4 linked regions of the Homo sapiens genome follow. The protein of the gene in region 3 purifies or fractionates together with the protein of the main gene of each other region. This does not show direct contact. Each region holds a gene or a part of one and is shown on either strand. Other genes may lie near its edges.

What was found.
Region 1: the proteins of MGMT (region 3) and CDKL5 purify together in Homo sapiens (affinity purification with mass spectrometry, with the first as the bait; one study listed by BioGRID). This does not show direct contact.
Region 2: the proteins of MGMT (region 3) and MYO7A purify together in Homo sapiens (affinity purification with mass spectrometry, with the first as the bait; one study listed by BioGRID). This does not show direct contact.
Region 4: the proteins of MGMT (region 3) and H2BW2 purify together in Homo sapiens (affinity purification with mass spectrometry, with the first as the bait; one study listed by BioGRID). This does not show direct contact.

The regions. Positions count from the first base shown.
Region 1 is NC_000023.11:18,623,654-18,628,130, reverse strand, and holds part of CDKL5 (cyclin-dependent kinase-like 5), read right to left. Parts: intron 3,004-4,477; coding exon 2,884-3,003; intron 1-2,883. UniProt on the Homo sapiens protein: Mediates phosphorylation of MECP2. May regulate ciliogenesis.
Region 2 is NC_000011.10:77,130,292-77,134,768, reverse strand, and holds part of MYO7A (unconventional myosin-VIIa), read right to left. Parts: intron 4,181-4,477; 5' UTR 4,135-4,180; coding exon 4,117-4,134; intron 1-4,116. UniProt on the Homo sapiens protein: Myosins are actin-based motor molecules with ATPase activity. Unconventional myosins serve in intracellular movements. Their highly divergent tails bind to membranous compartments, which are then moved relative to actin filaments.
Region 3 is NC_000010.11:129,464,989-129,470,855, reverse strand, and holds the start of MGMT (methylated-DNA--protein-cysteine methyltransferase), read right to left. Parts: upstream 3,616-5,867; 5' UTR 3,560-3,615; intron 1-3,559. UniProt on the Homo sapiens protein: Involved in the cellular defense against the biological effects of O6-methylguanine (O6-MeG) and O4-methylthymine (O4-MeT) in DNA. Repairs the methylated nucleobase in DNA by stoichiometrically transferring the methyl group to a cysteine residue in the enzyme.
Region 4 is NC_000023.11:104,037,755-104,042,778, reverse strand, and holds H2BW2 (histone H2B type F-M), read right to left. Parts: upstream 2,824-5,024; 5' UTR 2,803-2,823; coding exon of another isoform or gene 2,785-2,802; coding exon 2,375-2,784; intron 1,952-2,374; coding exon 1,915-1,951; 3' UTR 1,893-1,914; intron 1,692-1,892; 3' UTR 1,673-1,691; exon of another isoform or gene 668-1,672; 3' UTR 325-667; downstream 1-324. UniProt on the Homo sapiens protein: Core component of nucleosome. Nucleosomes wrap and compact DNA into chromatin, limiting DNA accessibility to the cellular machineries which require DNA as a template.

The sequences.
Region 1 (4,477 bases), on a different chromosome or scaffold from region 3:
AGGCCCAGGCTCATCTACCTGGTTGCATCCTATCTCTAATCAGGGGATCTCATGCTTCAACCAGCAGGAAGGAGAAAGCAAAAGGTGTATGTTTCTCTGTTTTGAGAAGACTTCCCAAAGGCTCCACAAAATGCTTCCACTTATATTTTACCAGCTAGAACTTAGGTACACAGCCATATCTAGCAGCAAGAGAAGCTGAAAATATGGAATGTTTTAGTTAGCAATGTACTCAACTACAAGTCGTATAGCCCTTTTCGTTCTTATCTCCCCAATTTCCCTCTCTCGATATTGCAAAATTCAAATGTTCCCTTGCTGCACTTTTTTTTTTTTTTTTTTGCTTTTTTTTTGAAAGGGGGAGGGTAACATTTGGGCATTGAAAATGCAAAGCACAAAGAAATATGCAAAACCCCATCAGAACTATCTAAAGAATTAATTCACAGGAGGCCTTCAATTCCTAACATGGGCTCACAGTGGTCCGCCCTGCCTGTCTGTCTACTGTGCAGCTAGACATCCCCAGGTGCTGCATCAAGGAGGGAGACTGACTTCAGGGCAGAGGGGAGGAGCCTCAGAGCCGTCTGCTCACTGGACAATTCCTGAGCCTCATGCTCCTGAACGATGAAAGATGGCTCAATCTCCTCTTCCTCGATCTCGGAAGAGACATGGAAAGCACTTGGAAATTCACAGCCAATCATGACTGCTGGATTTGGCCACTTGGGCTACAACCCTAGCCTTGGGACCCCTCTGGGGCCAATTCTCAGAGTACCTTTGCTGTAAATGTCATGGTATAAGGGACATGCATTTAAGGGCTCAGTAAAGTTTGAATAAAATGTTGACGAACTCAAGGAACATTACAAGATTTGAAGGAACTAGGCACTGAAACCCAAGGTAAATGGCTTCAGAACTGACTCAAGTAGATATTGTTTCAGGGGAAAGTATTCTCCATCATCATTTCAAAGTCTTCCCAAGAAAGCTTTGTGCTCCCTACAGGAAGTAGCAGAGCACACTGTACACTCTAAGTGCTCAAAAGTGGCTTTTTAAAAATAATTAAATTGGTATAACACGATGAGACTCCTGGTGATTTTTATAGCCTTGACCACATGTAACTATCAAGCAATTACAATAAGCTGCATTCAGCAAGAGCTATAAAGTTATTTGAAAAGAGCTTCTAGCCTGGGCAACAAGGCGAGACCCCGTCTCTATAAAAAAATTAAAAAACTGGCCATGTATGGTGGCGTGTGCCTGTAGTTCCAGTTACTCTGGAGGCTGAGATGGGAGAATGGCTTGAGCCCAGGAGGTCAAGGCTGCAGTGAGCCATAATCTTGCCACTGCACTCCAGCCTGAGTGATTGAGTAAGACCCTGCCAGAAAGAAAGAGAGAAGGGGGGGGAGGGGGGGGGAGAGAGGGGGGAGAGAGAGAGAGAGAGAGAGAGAGAGAGAGAGAGAGAGAGAGAGAGAGAGAGAGAGAGAGAGGGCTTCTTGGTAAAAGAAATGGTTTCACAAAGAAAGTTCTAAAGCTCTCTATTCTTTTTGTTTTGTTTTGAAATTGGGAATAGAGAAGCAGGCCCTCACTCAGAGGCTTGTCTCTTTAGTTTGCATACATATCCAATAAACTTGGATATCTGGTTCTCTATGCTTCCACCATCCCCAGCTTATATTATGTTAGAAGCAGAAAATATAAATGGCTGGGGCAAATAGAATGGGAATATGGGGAACTTCTGCCAGCAGTTCTATGCAACAGCTTACAGTTAAAAAGAGTAAACAGAGGCTGGGCATGGTGGCTCATCCCTGTAATCCCAGCACTTTGGGAGGCAGAGGCAGGTGGCTTGCTTGAGCCCAGGAGTTCGAGACCAGCCTGGGCAACATGGCAAAACCCCGTCTCTACCAAAAATTCGAAAAATTAGCCAGGTGTGGTGGTGCACACCTATAGTCACAGCTACTTGGGAGGCTGAGGTGGGAGGATTGCCTGAGCACAGGGAGGTTAAGGATGCAGTGAACCGAGTTTGTGCCATTGCACCCTAGCCTGGGCAATGGGATTGAGGCCCTGTCTCAAAAAAAAAAAAAAAAACAGTAGTCCGCTCTCCCAATCACAGAAATCTGTGACACAAGAAATCACAGACACAAGTAATCCTATAGCCTCAAAAGCTCGGGAGGATTGTCAGAAATTATAGTGCAGAAGAATAAAGGATTTATAAAATACTCAATATCAAAAAACAAAATGCTCATTATGGGATACTGAAAAGATACATTACAAAATTTCCAACCAAAATAGTTGTTTAAAGGAGATAAACCTCAGATACCTGAAAAATTTACTGATTCAGTTTCTGCTTATTCCTCCATTACGGAAGATAAATGTGACTATATAATACAGTCTAATATGTAGTTCCTAATGCAACTGTTTGCCTGTTTCCTGTCAAAAACAGTATGGATTTCAGGAGTTGAAATATTCTTTCAAGAAAACTTATCATACCTGTCTTTCAATTTGTATGCTATTATTTTTAATGAAACCTTAATCTTCCCACCATCTGTGTTCATCCTGCCTGAAATGTTATGGCATGCCTCATTTTTTACCATGAATTATGGTTCTTTAACACAGCTCAGCTCTTTCCTGGGCTGTATTTATGGGCTGGGACTACATCTTCAGTTGCCTCCAGCTAGGTGAAGGCTAACAGAAGCTTGCATCTTTCCCAGTAGAACATGGGTCACTGAAGCAAGATTCATCCTGGCTCACGAGATGCATCTGGCTATAACTGAGGGTCTATTTTGAGGAGGTGCTCAGCCTTACTGTAACATTGAGAGGCTAAGTTTTCTCTAGCATGCCCTCCCCGCTCCTCAGGACAGTTACTGGAGAGTTGGAGAGTCTAGCAGTGGTGCAGGATCCACTCACTTGGGTCTGCAGATCTGAGATCTTCTCGGGGCGCCACTCCTTTGGTCTGCTGCTTGGAGTGCTAGCAGAATGAATGGATTTCTGCAACGTCAGAAGATCAGGGCTGTCGGAATTGGGTACCTAGAGCAAAATATGGACAAGCATTCAATAAGCACACTGAGAAGCCTAATTAAGATATGCAACCACACCCAAGAGGAGAACCAAACTAAAAAGCAAACCAAACCAAAACTCAAATAACCCAGTAAAAATAGAACCCCAATCTCTCCCAATGTTCACAATGCAAGTGATGCTAGTTAAATTCTTCTGCCCTCTTAATAATTTTCCCTGCATTAGGAAAAATTGGCAGATGTCATGCAGCTTTGTTAAACCTCAACCCTTAAAGCATTCCCATGCTGTTAGTTTTAGTCGCTGTAAGAGAGAGCAGTTAAATAGGGCTGTACCAGGAATTGCTGTCGTATCCTCATTCCATATTGCAGTTAGGTTGTGAACCAGTTCAATAAAACAGAAATTTTTTCCTGCTGGGAAAATGATCCAAACACTGTATATGGTAGTGCCAAAGAAGTCTGGTAGGCTTTCAAGGATAGCAAAGTGAGAAAGTATGGTTTGGATCATATTCCCAAACCACTGTCTGATATATCTGGATCTATCATTATGTACTAGAGAAATGCTGGAAATCTGTGCCACAAATTCCAGATGAATGCAATTGCTCTATTCACCAGTTTTGGTGAACACAGAAGAGTAATGTCAAATGCCAAGCAAAAGCCCTGGTTTTAAACTGACCAGCAAAAGCTCAAGCCAGACAAGGAAACAAGCTGTTTTTTCATGGAGCCTGTTAGCTCATTCAATTTGGTCAATTCAACTTGGCTTCAAAAAGACAAATTGCCAATCAAGTGTTAACAAACTCTGTGAGTCAAATGCAAAGATATTTGTTAACTGTAAATGTTAACAGAATTCCTTACATAAAATACAGGCTTTTATAAATGTTATCTGCCCATAACTGGCTAATCAGACATGACAAACTAGCCTTTCACTAGTTTGTTTGCTTAATAGACTTTGTGCTTCAACTTTCTTAACTGATTCAGAAGAATGGCAATGAATTTATATCCCAGTGAATTTATGGAACTGGCTCACGTACTTAACTAGCATAAAGAGAATATGACCTCATGAAAATAAGACATGCTGTTGTCATCAGTAAAACAAGTTTACTGGAGCAGTTTTCAGGGCTACCATACATAAAAACGGGTACCATGGGTGGAGTGACTACAGGAAGCTTTTTCAAAGAAGAACTATGCTTTAAATGATTCTTTGAATTAAAAAGAGGAAAGAGGGATTTCTTGATGCTTGGATTCTCCCCGTTGGTGGAATCTGTCTGCAATATAAGATACAAATAAACTAATTGCAAAAAAAAAAAAAAGTGCTCTTATTGAAACTACTAGCCCTTGGAAGCCCTCAAATTGCTAAATATTAACAGTCACTGAAAGAATCTCGGTGCTGTGCATCTAGAGCTTCTGTGCCAATTCTCACCTGGATGTGAAGATGTCAATAATGCAAATTCAAGACAAGCACAAACTTCTTCTAAGTATATAATGTGAGA
Region 2 (4,477 bases), on a different chromosome or scaffold from region 3:
TGTTGTTATATGTATTTTAAAAAATACAAAATTGGAAAAAAAAATAGAGTACAGTAGACAGTGATGCAAAGCCATACAAAAAAATTAAAGAACACTGGTAAGGGCACTTACATAGATAAATAGAAAAGTCATATTTAACCAGGCACAGTGATAGGCGCCTGTACTCCCAGCCACTTAGGAGGCTGAGGCAGGAGGGCTGCTTGAGCCCAGGAGTTCAAAGCTGTAGTATACCACAATTGCACTTGTGAATAGCATCTGCACACCAGCTTGGGCAACACAGTAAGACTCCATCTCTTTAAAAAAAAAAATGTTGTATTTTTGGTCTGTAACTACTTTCTTTTCTGTGTGATTTAAAAGACAAATGTATAACATAATGATAAATCTATGTTAACTGGCACACAATGTATAAAGATGCAATTTGGACAATAAATAACATAAAGGGGGAGAGATAGAACTATAAAGGAACATAATTTTTATTTATTATTGAAGCTAATTTGGCCTTAAACTATATTGATGCAGATTTAAGATGTTATTTGTAGGCCAGATGCAGTGGCTAACACCTGTAATCCCAGCAGTTTGGGAGGCTGAGGCAGGCAGATCACTTTAGGTCAGGAGTTTGAGACCAGCCTGACCAGCATGGTGAAACCCTGTCTCTACTAAAAATAAAAAAAATTAGCCAGGTATGGTGGTGCACGCTTGTAATCCCAGCTACTTGGGAGGCTGAGGCAGGAGAATTGCTTGAACCCAGGAGGCAGAGGTTGCAGTGGGCCGAGATTGTGTCATTGCACTCCAGCATGGGCTACAAGAGTGAAACTCCATCTCAAAAAAAAGATGTTATTTGTAAACCTAAGAATAATCATTGAGGAAAAAACTTTTAAAATACACAGAAGAGTAAATGAGAATCAAAACAGTACTTTAGAAAAAAATGTCAATTAAACACAAAAGAGCAGTAATGAGGAATTGAGGAGGAAAAGATATAAGACATACAGAAAACATAGCAAAATGGCAGAGGTCCTTCCTTAACAGTAATTACTTCATGTGTAAATAGATTAAACTCTCCAACCAAAAGGTAAAGACTGGCAGAATGGATAAAAACAAAACAAAACAAAAACCAACCACATGATCTAACTATATGCTGCTTACAAGAGATCCACTTTAGATCCAAAGACACAAATAGGTTAAAAGTAGAAGGATTTCATGCAAATAGTATTCCATGCAAATAGTAACCAAAAGACAGTTGAGATGACTACACTATCAGACATAGATGTTAAGTCAAAATCATTACAAGAAACAAAGAAGGACATTATATTTTACTAAAAGCATCAATCCAACTGTTATCAACAGCCCACAAATTTATCTTCAAACCTCCCTCTGCCCACAAATCTGGGCCAAGTACACAGAGTCCCTACCCTGGCACCACCATGAAGCTGGGAATCATGACATACTGAAGCACAAAAGCCCTCCTTGTGGTCCTTAAAGATGTGAGTCAGGTGTGCCACACAGGTGCGCCACTAGTCAGCTGGGCTAGTCCTTCTTCCAGAGACCTCAGTCCCTGTATGTTCATGAGAGGCTGCTGCAGCTGTCTCATGGCCTTCCCTGTCCACCCTCTCCCAGGGAGGGCAGAAGGCTCTCCCATTCCCAGGTGCCCTCTCATCCCCGTGCCCCCTGGAGACTCACTGTCACAGTGCCTTTCCTAGGTTTCTAAGCTGTCTCCCCACATAGGTCTGGGAACTCCTCCAGGGCAGGGAATAGTAGGTGAATGCCTGCTCCTCCTGCCTTCAAGCAGGAAGTATGCTTCAGCTGCTTCCTTGGTCCTAAAAAGAACCCGAGCCCCGGGAGCCGACCCGCTCTGCAGTTCCACAGGCCGGGCCCAGTGGGCTCCATCTTGTGCTTTGCTGTTGAGTAAGAGGGCCTTGGGCACATTACTCAGCCTTCCTGAGCCTGTTTCATCATATGCAAAATGCAGATTAAAAACCTCTATCCACCTGGTGCGGTGGCTCACGCCTGTAATCCCAGTACTTTGGGAGGCCGAGGTGGGCGGATCACGAGGTCAGGAGATCAAGACCATCCTGGCCAACATGGTGAAACCCCGTCTTTATTAAAAATACAAAAATTAGTTGGACGTGGTGACGGGTGCCTGTAATCCCAGCTACTCAGGAGGCTGAGGCAGGAGAATTGCTTGAACCAGGGAGTCGAAGGTTGCAGTGAGCCAAAATCATGCCATAGCACTTCAGCCTGGTGACAAAGCAAGACTCTGTCTCAAAACAAACACACACACAAACAAACAAACAAACAAACAAAACCCCTGTTTTCCCACAGCTGCCATTGTGAAGCTAAAATGCCATTTGGGACTCCATGAAAATGCTTCTTCCTTCATCTGCTTCCCTGGACTGCCTCTCTCCTCCTCTCTTCCTGCCAGTTCCTTCCCTATCCTGAAAGATCCACGGGAAATGGGATGAAGGCTGTCCCTCATGTCCAGGGCTCATCAGGAAGCCCCAGGTAGGCAGAGAAAGGAGGAGGACTGTGGACCAGGCCCTGGGGTTTGCAGAGCAGGGAAGCCTCCCGAAGGAAGTAGAGGCTACACTGAAGCCTGAGCAGAAGTCAGCCAGGCAAGAGGGGAAGCCAAGCACTCCGTGGACCTTTCAGGACCGGGAAGGATGTGGCAGGAAGAGAGGAGGAGAGGGCAGACCAGGGAAGCAGAGGAAGGAAGAAGCATTTTCATGGAGCTCCACATGGCATTTTAGCCTCTCATCGGCAGCTGTGGGAAAAGAGGCTTTTAATCTTCATTTTACATATGAGGAAACTGAGGCTCAGGAAGGCTGAGTAACGTGCCCAAGGCCCTCCCACTCATCAATAGCAAAGCCTGGGCTGGAGCCCATTAGGCCCGGCCTGTGCAACTGCAGAGCTGGCCGGTTCCCCAGGGCTGGGGCTTTCTTCAGGACCAAGGAAGGAGCTGAGTGTACTTCCTGCTTGAGGGCAGGCAGAACAGGCATTCACCTACAAGACACTTGCTCCCAACAGAGGCCACCCACAGCTGGAGGTGGGTCAGCGTTCAGAGGGGCAGGAGAGGAGGGGGTGGTGAGGAGGTCCCATCAGCCAGAGGCCTGCCTCAGAGGCCCCCTGAGGGAGGACGCCCCTGGAGGGCTATGGGGGCCCAGGCCCTGGCACACAGCAAACACTCAGCGAATGGACTTTTCCTCTCCTAGATCCTGCCCATCTCTAATGGGCGTTTGAACAGGCTCTCAGGCCAAGGGGCTCTAAAGGGGGTCTCCTCCAGCCCCTGGGATAGAAGAATGTCTGTCCTGATGCTGCCCTGAAGCCTGCCTCTCACTCACACACACAGACACACACACGCGCACGCACTCATATGCAAACATGCTGGTCCGTGCAGCCTCAGGGTGGCCAGGCAAGGCTGAGCCATTGGCCTCTGGTGACCCTGGAGACCGAGAAGCTGCTGGCCAAGCCCCCATAATGCACAGCCCCACAAGCCCTACGGCCTGCTGCCAGGCCCACCTGGCTCAGGGCCCACATTCCTGGCTCCTGCTCTGGAGGCCAGGAGCTCATTAGAGCCTCAGACTGATCACGGGGAAGGGCTGAGGGTCAGAGGCCACTGTGGCCCTCAGTAGGAAGGGGGGCTGGAGGACTCAGCTCGGGCCAGCACCTCTGCTTCTTCCCATAAAATCCCAGGGGGCTCCAGCTCAAGCCTTGTCACCCCCCGCCCTCCAGTCACTGCTCCCCAAGGCCCTAAGAATAAGTTGGGCTCAGGGCCCTTCCTGGCCTGGCTTTGGGAGCCTTGCCAACCTCCTCTCCTCTTCCCCAGGGACCTTCCCACACCTGGGCCTTTGCACATGCTGTTCCACTGCCTGGGATCCAGAGATGTGTGTAAATAAACTCATTTCTGCCCAGTGGGGTGAGCCAGTGAGAGAAGGAAACCCCAGCTGGCACAGCAGAGGGAACAGGTTTCAGACTAGGCCTCAGCCTGGAGGGCTGGGTTTGGAAGCCTAGGCAGGAATTTTCCAAGAGAACACCCTGGGGAGGGTGTCCCACGGGTAAGCATATGGATGAGGGGATATGGCCTGGGGAGGACAGGCCACCCAAAGAGGTGGGAACACTGACCTGCTGAAGAATCACCATGGTCCCAAGTCAGGAGCTCCTGCTGCCCACTGGGCCAGGCACAGTTCTGCAGGGAGAGAGACCATGTCATGCTTCTGGGCAGGCCAGCCCTGGAAGCCTTGAGCCTGGCTGGGGTCACCTGGGCTCCTCCCAAAGCCCCAGCTCCTCCTCCCTCAAGGGAACCCTCCTTGGCTTCTCTCCCTCTGACCACTGCCCAGCCTGTGTGACCTGAGCCTCAGCCACTGTCACCAGCACCACTGCCCAGAGCAGCTGAATTCTTCTCTCAGCCACTGTCATTCAGAGATTCCCAAAGGGCTCCTAGAAAGTAGCAAGTCTGGCCCCACCAGGGACCTACGGCAAAGGG
Region 3 (5,867 bases):
CTGGTTTTAGAACAGCTACCTCCAGGTGGGGTGAAGGGGACACGAGGCCTCCTTGGAGAACCCTGCTCTGCTGCTGAGCCACTGATTTAACTGAAAACAACTTGTGGTGTCAAAACCAAGTTTCACCATTCAGAGCATCCGCATGGGCAGCTCCCAGGGCGGCCTATTCAGTTACTTAGCTGGAGGAGCTTCGGGAGCGCAGGCTGCTGAGGACTGGCTTTGCTGCCGGGACCGAGCACCTTGGCAGGACTCAGTGTTTGATTCCTTTCCGGGTGATCCACACCTGCCAAAGCCACTCTAATACTTCAAAGATCAACAAAGTCACAAAAATGATTTCTTCCTCTTCATAAATCACTTCAATAGCTCTATGAAGAAGTCAGTCATTCATTACATTCCATACTATATTCATTAGTTTCCCCCAAACTATGCAGCCCTCCGATATAAGCTGTACTGTTAATTTTTTTAAGTCAAAAGAAAACTAGACTATGTCCACCAACCAGCAGATATGCAGCAGTTAATGAAAAGCCACAGAACACACATCTTGCAACATTTGGTCCACAACACAAGGTCTCCAACTTCTACTTACCTATGTCCAAGACAGGCCTGCAGAGCTAACAGCGTAGGTTCACAAAATCCTCATGCCAACCAAGGACCCTCCTGCACAGCTCAAACCTCCTCCCTCCCATATAAATCCTTTCACTTCAAAACAAGAGTGGGGCGAAGGGCTGGCTTGTGCATCATGAGTGTCTATATAAAGACCACTCTCACCCCACAGTCAGGTGATGGTTTATGTGTCTTCTCTGATTTTAAATCCTTCAGGTTTCGTTTAAATAATATCCTGCGAGGCCAGGCATGGTGGCTCATGCCTATAATTCCAGCACTTTGGGAGGCCTAGGAGGGAAGATCACTTGAGTCCAGGAGTTCGAGACCACCCTAGGCAACATACGGAGACCCTGGCCTCTAAAAACAACAACAACAACAATTAGCCAGGTATGGTGGCGCACACCTGTAGTCCCTGGTACTTGGGAGGTCAAAGCAGGAGGTTCGCTTGAGCCCAGGAGCTTGAGGCTGCAGGGAGCTATGATCTCACCACTGCACTCCAGCCTGGGCGAAAGACCAAGACCTTGTCTCTAAAAATAATAAAATAATATTCTGCGGTAAGACCCCAGCTCTTTCAGAAAGTAGCTGCATTAAAAACTACTTGTCCCAGGAAACAGAGGGTCAGGAAGGACCGTAGCAACAGCCCAAGAGCCGAATGAGCACAGGGCCCTGCAGGGTCTGGGAGGCTCAATGTGTCCCCTGGAGGGACTAGAGTCCCAAACGGAAGTCAAAAATCTCAGGGCAAGTGGATCTGGACATGGAACTTTATGCTGGGGAAGGGGGTCAGAATGAAGTGCAGAAACAAGAATAATGCTAAAGGAAAAGATAATGCAGAAAATTCAGTTTTGCCTCCATTTTTTTTCTATCAAAGAGAATATACTGAAAAGAGCATTAGCACCAAAAAGAAAAATGGAAGGTCTGAATCACTGGCTCCTAAATGTGTGTCCTCTGCAAAACAGAACAGACAATTTAGTAACTTTATTTTATTATAAAATACTGAAAGAGTCAGGGTTTTGGTGTCCTAAGAAAGGGTGGGAAGAGGACTGGAGAGGAACAAACTCTGAGGGGGCAATGGGGAAGGCAAGTTCTTTTTCAGGCCCTTCCTACCCCCTTCTTCCCTGCAAAAGGACAGAGGAGGCCCTGATTGAGACACCTGGGGAGGAAACCCAAACAACGAAAAGTAAGGCCCAGGTGATATCAAAGTAAGACCTCAACAAGGTTCAAGAATCTGAGCAGCTGAACAAGGTGCTACCCAATGTATACCTAGGGCTCTATTTCTTTCAACCTTACTAACAGCAAAGCCTTTTTAAAGTAGTGCCTAATACTATTAGTTAAATCCTTATTTTGATACAGATTTTTTTGTTTCCCCTTCAGGACAGTTTCACTCTCGTCGCCCAGGTTGGAGTGCAATGGCGCAATCTCGGCTCACTGCAACCTCCGCCTCCCAGGTTCAAGCAATTCTCCTGCCTCAGTCTCCCAAGTAACTGGGATTACCAGCATGCACCACCACGCCTGGATAATTTTTGTGTTTTTAGTAGAAACTGGGTTTCACCATGTTGGCCAGGCTGGTCTCAAACTCCTGACTTCAGGTGATCCACCCACCTCGGCCTCCCAAAGTGCTGAGATTACAGGCGTGACCCACTGTGCCTGGCCCAGATTTTTTTTTTTTAATGAAGATATATACATTGAAAAGTACCTGAGTATAGCTCCGTACTGGTGGTCTACTTCATCCAGGCCCCTGACTGTGGCAGACACTACTCCACTATTCAAATTCCAACCCGAGACAGAGGGCCCAGGAAGAAAGACACGCGGCAGAGCAAGGCCAGCTCTCCTCTGCTACTTGCAGGCAGACTCCGGGTCTGGGCAAGTATCCTGGCCCTCTGAGTTAACGTGATATTAACAATCAGCCAGGCTCTTGACGCGGTTTCCTTCAAAGTTTTCACACCCCCACCCACCAGGTGCGCTAAGCTTTGGGTTTTTAAAATCTTGTTCATCTCCCAGAGTGTTTTAGCCATTGAGAGGGCCCTGAAAATAACAAAACCATCTCCTAGACACCTGCCCAGGGATGGGGGAGATGACGGGAGAGCCTGACTTAACAGATACTCTATAGGTTTCTATTTGGATGTCTATGTAAATAACCAGTCTAATTCTCAGCTCTCTGTGCTTAACATTCTACTGAGAACAGCTCTCTGGACCAAGCCGCTTCCCTGTCTGATGATGATCTCAGCAGGCATAGGTTGCACACACATGTACAAAGTCTGCTTTCCAGGACAGAAAGCCAGCTACTCAGCTGAAGCAACTGAGAGCAAACACCACCCTGAGATTTCAGGAGATGATGAACCCAGGAGTGCGAAATACATAGTTCAGAACTCCTCTGCGGTGTTATAACCGACATTACGGTGCCCAGTGTGTGTGGCTCTCCAGCGAGCCTTGCTTACTCTAAGTGTTGATGAATACAGTTAGGGTATGATGTACACAAACACCAGCCATAGTAACCAGAAGGCCCCTAGAACTTGGCCTCCAGCAGGAAGGAAATATGGGACTCTGCCTAAGTATGCTAAAGGGTTGCTGCAAGCCAAGGCCCGCGCAGGGGCTTCTGGAAGCTTCCTGGAGCAGCTGGCGGAGGGAAAGCTGGCAGCATGGAAGGGTAGGAAGAACCCGGGGCCCGGGCCTGGGGCTGGCACCTAGAGGTAAGGCAGGGGCTGCCACGACCCCCGCCACACGCCAGTCCACAGTCACTGCAGCGCAGCCTAGTCCAGGAACCCCAGGCCCGGGGAAAGGCTGGGCAACACCTGGGAGGCACTTGGGGCGCACCTGGAGCTCGCCCGGGATGGGTGGGGGTCAGGGCGGCCCCACACCCGACGGCGAAGTGAGGGCGCCTGCAGGACCACTCGAGGCTGCCACCGTCCCGAGGGAGAGCTCCGCACTCTTCCGGGAGCGAGGCGACCCAGACACTCACCAAGTCGCAAACGGTGCGCACCGCGAGGACCTGCGGGCGTCGGGACGCAAAGCGTTCTAGGGGCGCGGGCTGTCCCAGCATATCCGGGGCGCGGGGGCGGGGCCGAGGGGCACGGGGATGGCGGCGTGGGGCGGGGTCTAGAGCGGGGCGGAGCCGAGGACCTGAGAAAAGCAAGAGAGCGCGCGGGGGCGGGGCCGGGGCGCGCGGGGGCGGAGCTGGGGCGGAGCCCGGGAGGGGCGGGGTGTTCCCGCCCGACCGGGTCGGCGCATGCCCTGTGCGGCGGCGCCGGGCCTGAGGCAGTCTGCGCATCCTCGCTGGACGCCGGCACGCCGGCCCTGGTCCTCCGGCAGCGCCGCTGCCCTGTGCGCCTGACCCGGATGGCCCTTCGGCCGGTACAAGCCGGGCGGCGCCTTCCCAGCTTCCGCCTGAGGCTCTGTGCCTTAGTTTGCCAAATGGCCCGTACCTTTTCCTGTCACAGGGATAGTCCGCGGGCGTGCAAGCGACCTGCCACGTGCCCGAGTGGTCCTGAAAGCGCGCGGGGGTCGTAGGACGGCGCCCGCTTAGTGAGAATCCCGGTCCTGCTCGGGGCGGCTACGCTGAGCCCGGAGCGCGAGTCTCTCCCCTCCTGGTGCCGCTCCCCTAGTCAGGGACCCCCAGACCAGCAGAGACCCTGTCAGGGGGCCGTGGGGGCAGCCTCCAGGGCCTGTGGTGGGCGATGCCGTCCAGGGGCTGCAGTCACCGATGGCCTAGACACTGCCAGAGCCTGACTCAGCCGCTCTCCAGAGAGCACACAGGGTGCCAGGCCCTGCTTGGGGTTGTGTGGACGTTATTAGGAGTTGAATTGTGTCCACCAGAGAAGCTATGTTGGAGTCCTAACTCCCAGTACCTCACAATGTGACCTTATTTGGAGATGGGGACTTTACAGAAGCCATCAATTAGTGGGCCCCTCATCCAGTATGACTCGTGTCCTTATAGGCAGAAGGCCGCTTGGGGAGGAGGATTGGAGGGCTGCACCTGCAAGCCACCAGAAGCCTAAGAGGACAGACCCTTCCCTGGAGCCTTCGGAGGGAGCAGAGGACACTCTTCCCTGGAGCCTTCAGAGGGAGCAGGATCCTAACACACCTGGGTTTCAAACTTCTGGCCCCCGGAAGTGTGAGACAATAGGTTTCTGTTGTTTTAAGCCACTCAGTGTGTGGCACTTTATTATGGCAGCCCCAGGCAATGGGTACAGAAACCATTGTCTCTAACGTGGTTGGCATAAGCACCCCAGGGAGTAGTATCATCCCTGGAGGCTTCGGAGAGGTCACACACCCCTTGGCAGGATCCCATCCAAGGCCCACATGTTCTAAGCCACCATGCTACGGGCCTTCTAGGTTCTGTTTGTTATCTTAATGGAAAGGGGTCTTCACCTTCCCGGTGAAGTTTCCCTGTTGGGATTCGGCCAATGCTCATACCTTCGTATTTGTGACTTGCAGGATCCAACATATTAGCATGAGTGATAAGGGTTGTTCAGAGGAGAACTTCAGCAGGATTTGCTTTGGGATGAGCCCTGGTGACAATACAGGCTGCATCATTGATCCTCTGAGGTTCCCCACCCCGACCCTGCCTTGGATGAGACATGTTTTAAATAGCTGCTTGTGGGAAATAAACTAGGCCCTGAGTACACGATATAATGGTCAAATCAAGGCACTTTTTCCCCACTGAACCTGGACACAGCCTCGGAATCCTTCTCAACACTGTGTTCCAAGCAGCCATTCACATTTAAACTAATGTGGAAGGACAGATGAAACATGTTTGCCCTTGGCTCTGGTTTTTTCCATTAGCCTTCTATAAGACTTCGGGAAACTCGTCTGACTTCTCTAATCCTCAGTTTCATACTCTGTAAAGGAGTCTCATGATAACGTACCCTACGTGTGTACAAACTATCCTTCCATATTAGGGCATGTGTGCATAGGGAAAATAAACCACCAGCACCACACCACACTACTAAGAAATAATGCTATACACCTGGCCACTTACAGCCTGTTACTACCAGGACCCAGTTAGAACCGGGATCTTAATAGAACCAAAGGAAAAACAATGCCGAAATGGAATCAGAGTGCCGACTGATATTCTAACAAGTGTGCTGTTAAGTAGTTTTGCAGTTAACACATGACTCATACGTTTATCTGAATAATATTTTAAGACGAATCCCTAAACTCTTAAGAAAAAGAGACTGGCCAGTCTTAGCATCTCTAATTCCCCACCCTAGGAAAGAAAGGCCAATGTGGTCATCCAAAGGCCCTTTAGGAGGGCCCTGTGGGAATGG
Region 4 (5,024 bases), on a different chromosome or scaffold from region 3:
AAGTCACAGCATGACATCATGATTGCCTAATAGGTTCCGCTTCTGCTCAATGACCCAAAGAAATACCATATCAAATGTGTGAGCTTCCTCCTCCGATCTTCACATCAATCCACCCCTTTCCTCTTTCTTCCTGTAATTCACCGGCATCAGTCCCCTTGCCCCCTCACTCTTCACTCCCCACAACCAAATCAGATTTCATTGTTAACCCTGTTTTACTAATGGCCCTCTTTGATTTCTGAATTTACAAAGGGAAAACACATATTCCAAGGTAAAATATCTCAGTGGATTTGGTTTCTCAAAAGGACTTGTCTAATTACACACATATGCAAGGGTAACTTCAGAAATTTATTCGTATGTCTTAATTCACAGAAACATTGGCATTTTACAGCAAAACAATTAGCATAATGAGAAATAAGTCACTGAGTGAGATGTGGTGTTTTGTCAGGTACACAGCTCTGTCTCTGGGAAGAAGCAGGGTTCTGGCAAGGGTCTTTGGTTTGGCAAGGGTTGTTCCGGACTTGTAGGAACATTTGGTGGCACCATCCAGAAGGATTTACTTGCAGCTGATTTTGTGGGGTTTTTCTTGGTCTCCTCGTGCAATAAGCACAACTTCAACTATTTTCATAACATTTCTCTTCAGCTATTTCTGTAATATTTTTCTAATAATCTGGAAAAACAGAAAGTAACAGATCCCAATGAGTGGACTTCTTGGTTCTATATCATTTCTCTATGGATCCCAAGTGGAGCTCTGGAGGTGACCTTCCCCTCTTCCCATCTGCACTACTCAGGGAAGCTCTGGCTACCATCTTGCCCTGACCCTGTTTCCCTCTTGACCAAGGGGTCCTCTTTAAATGGTGGAATAATCTATGTGGCTATGTGTTGGGCCCTCTGGGGTGGTTCTTTCCCACTTCTGATGGGCTCAAGAAAATTTTGATTTTTGTCATTTATCCAGCTTTTGTTTCATGGTTTGACTGAGAGTGCCATCCTTTACTGGTTTCTACATATGAAGGAGAAGGGTTGTTTATGAGATGTTTCAAAATTTACGGGAAACATTTAACAAAAATGGCCACATGTTGAGCTTCAAGGCACAACATAATAAATTCCTGTGGGTTGCAGTCCCAGAGTATGTTCTCTTGTCCACATACTCGGGCGACTGGAAATCAATGGAAAAGGAAAGCAATGGGAAAGTGAGCACCTGCTCTGAAATTCAGCAATACACTTATAGAAAAAAATGCTTAAAATGCCAAGACTTGGGACCCAGAAGAGAGCACAATGAAAGGTAGCCTATATTAATATTAACATGAATATAAATATGCTAATCTTTTGAGGAAATAAGCCTTATCTGACTTCTACTAATGGTTGCCAATGTTCTGTATAACTTGATGTTAGGGACAAGGTACATATTCTAATCTTAGCTTTGGATTCATATCCCTAAAAGATCATGATTACAAGCAATGCAAACAAAAACATCAGGTAAAGAATCACACTGCCGTTCCTTTAAACACCAGGTTGAATATAACAGGAAGGCTGCTGTGGGTTCAGCTTGGGTCACTCCCCCCACATTGGGTCAATGACTGTTGCTCATAGACTGCAGGTCACTCATTGGCTGTACCACTGTACACTAGGGCATGAGCTGTTTCCGTGGACACTCCGTAATCCTACTGACACACACCTGGAAGTAAGGAAGGTTTCTGTTCAAAAAGAAATGAAAAAATTACTGTCAGTACAAAAAGAGAATGAATTACAATAGTGGTCTCAGAGTCGGGGAAGCTGGAAAACGAATGGATTCTTGAAAATTTTATTTAGCCATATATATACTGTAACTGGGCCTCGTTTGCTTATTTACATGGATTCATGATGAGAGAGATGCTGAACACATTTAGGAGGGTTACCTTGCTTCTTGTATCAGCATATTCACTTTCTCTGTTGCCATATCGCACATAATGAAGTTCTGGAAAATCCCACCATCCAGTCGTAGGAGAATGAGAGTGAAAAAGGTAAACATCAGTACATTGATAACATCATCATAAAGATAACCTAGAAAGATAACTAAGAAAAACGGCCATTTGGGAAACTGAGGACACGAAACACGATTACGGAAACACCCCCTACTTTTCCTTGGAGCATATTGCACTACAGATATATTGGAGTTGACAGTGTTTTGCACTGTGGGAAAAATGCTTGAAAAACCGCAGGAGGCCACACGGCACATGCCCCCCAAGCTGGAACGGTGCCACCCACACCAACCTCCGGTGGGGTCCCCCCCTTGGCGGGCCACTGGCCTATAGGGCCACGGGCGGTGGTTCTGAATAGAGCCTTTGGGTTTCCCAGGTGCTCAGGCGCTCCTGAGACAGCTCACTTGCTTTTGGTGTACCTGAGGGCGGCATTCGTGCCCTGGGCCTCGGCGAGCTTGCCCATCTTCCCCGGCAGCAGCAGTCGCACGGCCATCTGGATGTCCCGGGAGGTGATGGTCACGCGCTTGGTGTAATGGGCCAGCTGACCAGCCTCGGTGGCGATGCGGTCCAATATGTCATGGATCATAGAATCCATGACACTCACGGCCTCCTGGGAAAGGCTGAGGCCCTGGTGAACCTGCTTCAGCACCCGGGGGAAATAGGGGGTGAAGCTGTCCCCGAAGCTGTCCCCACGGCGGTTGGCGTGGCGCCTGCGGGAGCCTCGGCACCCTCGCCTCTTCTGCTTCTGGGCCTTCGTGGAGTTGGCCTCTTTGGGCTCCTGGATGCTCTGGCCTTCCTCCGAGGTTGTCTCAGAGGAAGCCTCAGCCATGGCGGAAGCAGCGGCCATTAGATAGCAAGAACAGAGAGTGACGGTTGGGGACCAGGGAAGTGGGGGGCACTTTGGTATGGTCGCATGGCTCTACGTCACATTCCAACTCGACATCTGATTGGATGAAGTGTCACCAAGGGCGCCTCTCAGCAATCTTCCCTCCATTGAAGGTGATCGGATGATCCTGTTGCTTGGAATCATGTCAGCCAATCACAGAGGGCGTCTGCCCGCCTAAGTGGCCGGGTTGCCTACCTCAGACAAAGGTACACAGAGTCTTGCTCTGTGGCACACCTGCAGTGCAGTGGTGCGGTCTCAGCTCACTGCAACCCCTGCCTCCTGGTTTCAAGTGATGCTCCCTCTTCAGCCTCCCAAGTAGCTGGGAGTAGAGGCGCGTACCACCACACCTGGCTAAGTTTTGTATTTTGTGTGTGTGTATGTGTGTGTGTGTGAGAAACATGGTTTCTTTATGTTTCCTCAGGCTGGTCCCAACTCCTGGACTCCAGTGATTCTCCTGCCTTGGCCTCCCAAGCTGCTGGGATTACAGGCATGAGCTATTGTGCCTGGCAGAGAAAACTTATTTCAAGAAAATAAAACATGATGTTGATACCCATTGAAGGATGCACACTACAAAAATCTGAGAACATTTATAAACTTGGTTACAAAACTCATACCTGAAATATTATAAATTAAATCACATTACACACACACACACACACACACACACACACACAAAGGGAAACAGTTTACTGCTGTAAATAACAATTTAGAAGCATCAAACGGGGCAAACATTACTAATGGAACAAGCAGACCTCATATAATCTTTTTTCAACATTACCTCTATTATACAATTCATTTAAATACATAACAAAAACCCACAGTGCAGAAATAGCTAAATCAAAAATTCAATGAACAGCACCCCTTTCAAGCTTCCGAGAAAATAAAGTAAGGACTCTAACTCATTCACATTTGTCTAATTCTATTGTTTCCCAGTCTACAATCTTTTTTAATGCAAAGCTTAATGTCCTGTGAGTATGCATCACTTACGATGGAAGTATCCAATGAGAGCACCCAAACCCCACTCTCCACTGGCTCAACTAATGAAGTGTCTTCAGCCCTGGGCCTGAGCCACTGGCTCAGAATGTGAGCAGGTGACCAGTCCTGAACCAATAAATGCCCTCCTAGCTGTTCAGCCTTGTAAATTGAGGAGAAAATTAGTTTGAGGTTTTTGTCCACTTTTTATTTCTTTGTTTGATTTTTCGTTTTATTGTAATTGTGGTGAATTAAAGATTTGAATCCAAAGCTGTGAGTAAGCATGTCTCCTACCTCTGGCATCATATTATGAAGGCAAGTTCTCTGAAAAGGAATTTGGAGGAAAGAGACTATTCCTGTGAACAGCTTGCACACCAGGGAGGGGCAGACTTCAGTGTAAAACAAAGGCGAAGTTCCAGAGAACTAAAAGAGGATATGGCTTTTATAGAGAAAGTTCCCATCGAGGTTCTCAGTACAGTCCATTCATGCAAATAAAGGATTCAAAATTAGTTCTGATTGGTTGACTCAGTTGATCTCTGATTGGTCAACACGACTGAGCCCTGATTGGCAGGGGCAGGTGAGCTCTGGCTGGTTGGTTCAGGTGACCTCTGAAAGTTGCAGAGTTAGATAGAGGTATGGGCTTTTGGGGAATTCCTAGTACATGTGTGAGCTCTAGTCTGCACGTGGCAGCTTGCTTGGCTCTAGTTTAGATTTAGGCTCAGTCACTGGGATCCATCTGGAAAGACTGGCTCTTTTAGGTTTACATTTGTCCACAAGTTTAATAAAATGATAGTGACCAATTAAAAAAACTAGGACGACTCTCCTTTTTTTTTCAATTTGATTGTTGTGGGGCTTTTTCACTTTCAGGCACATGTGTCTGACAAAATTAACCCACTATGGTAATTTGAGACAATAAAAACACTTACTTCAGTACAAAGCTTTCTCCAAAATATGATTGGCCCTGATTCTTGATGCAATATAATAGTCTTCCCCTTTCATTAGACTGTCACTCTGCAATAAGGGGGAAGGAGTGTGGAAGTGAGTGGGGGCACAGAAGAAGCTGTAAAGGGTGGCTATTTCCTCTTTTTCCTTATCCCAGACATTTTCCCTAGTATAGTGACCATGTGTCCTGATTTCACCTGTTGTCCCTTAGTAATTCTTAACAGCATCCCCTTTCACTCTGAAACATGTCCAAATTTACAAATCTGTAC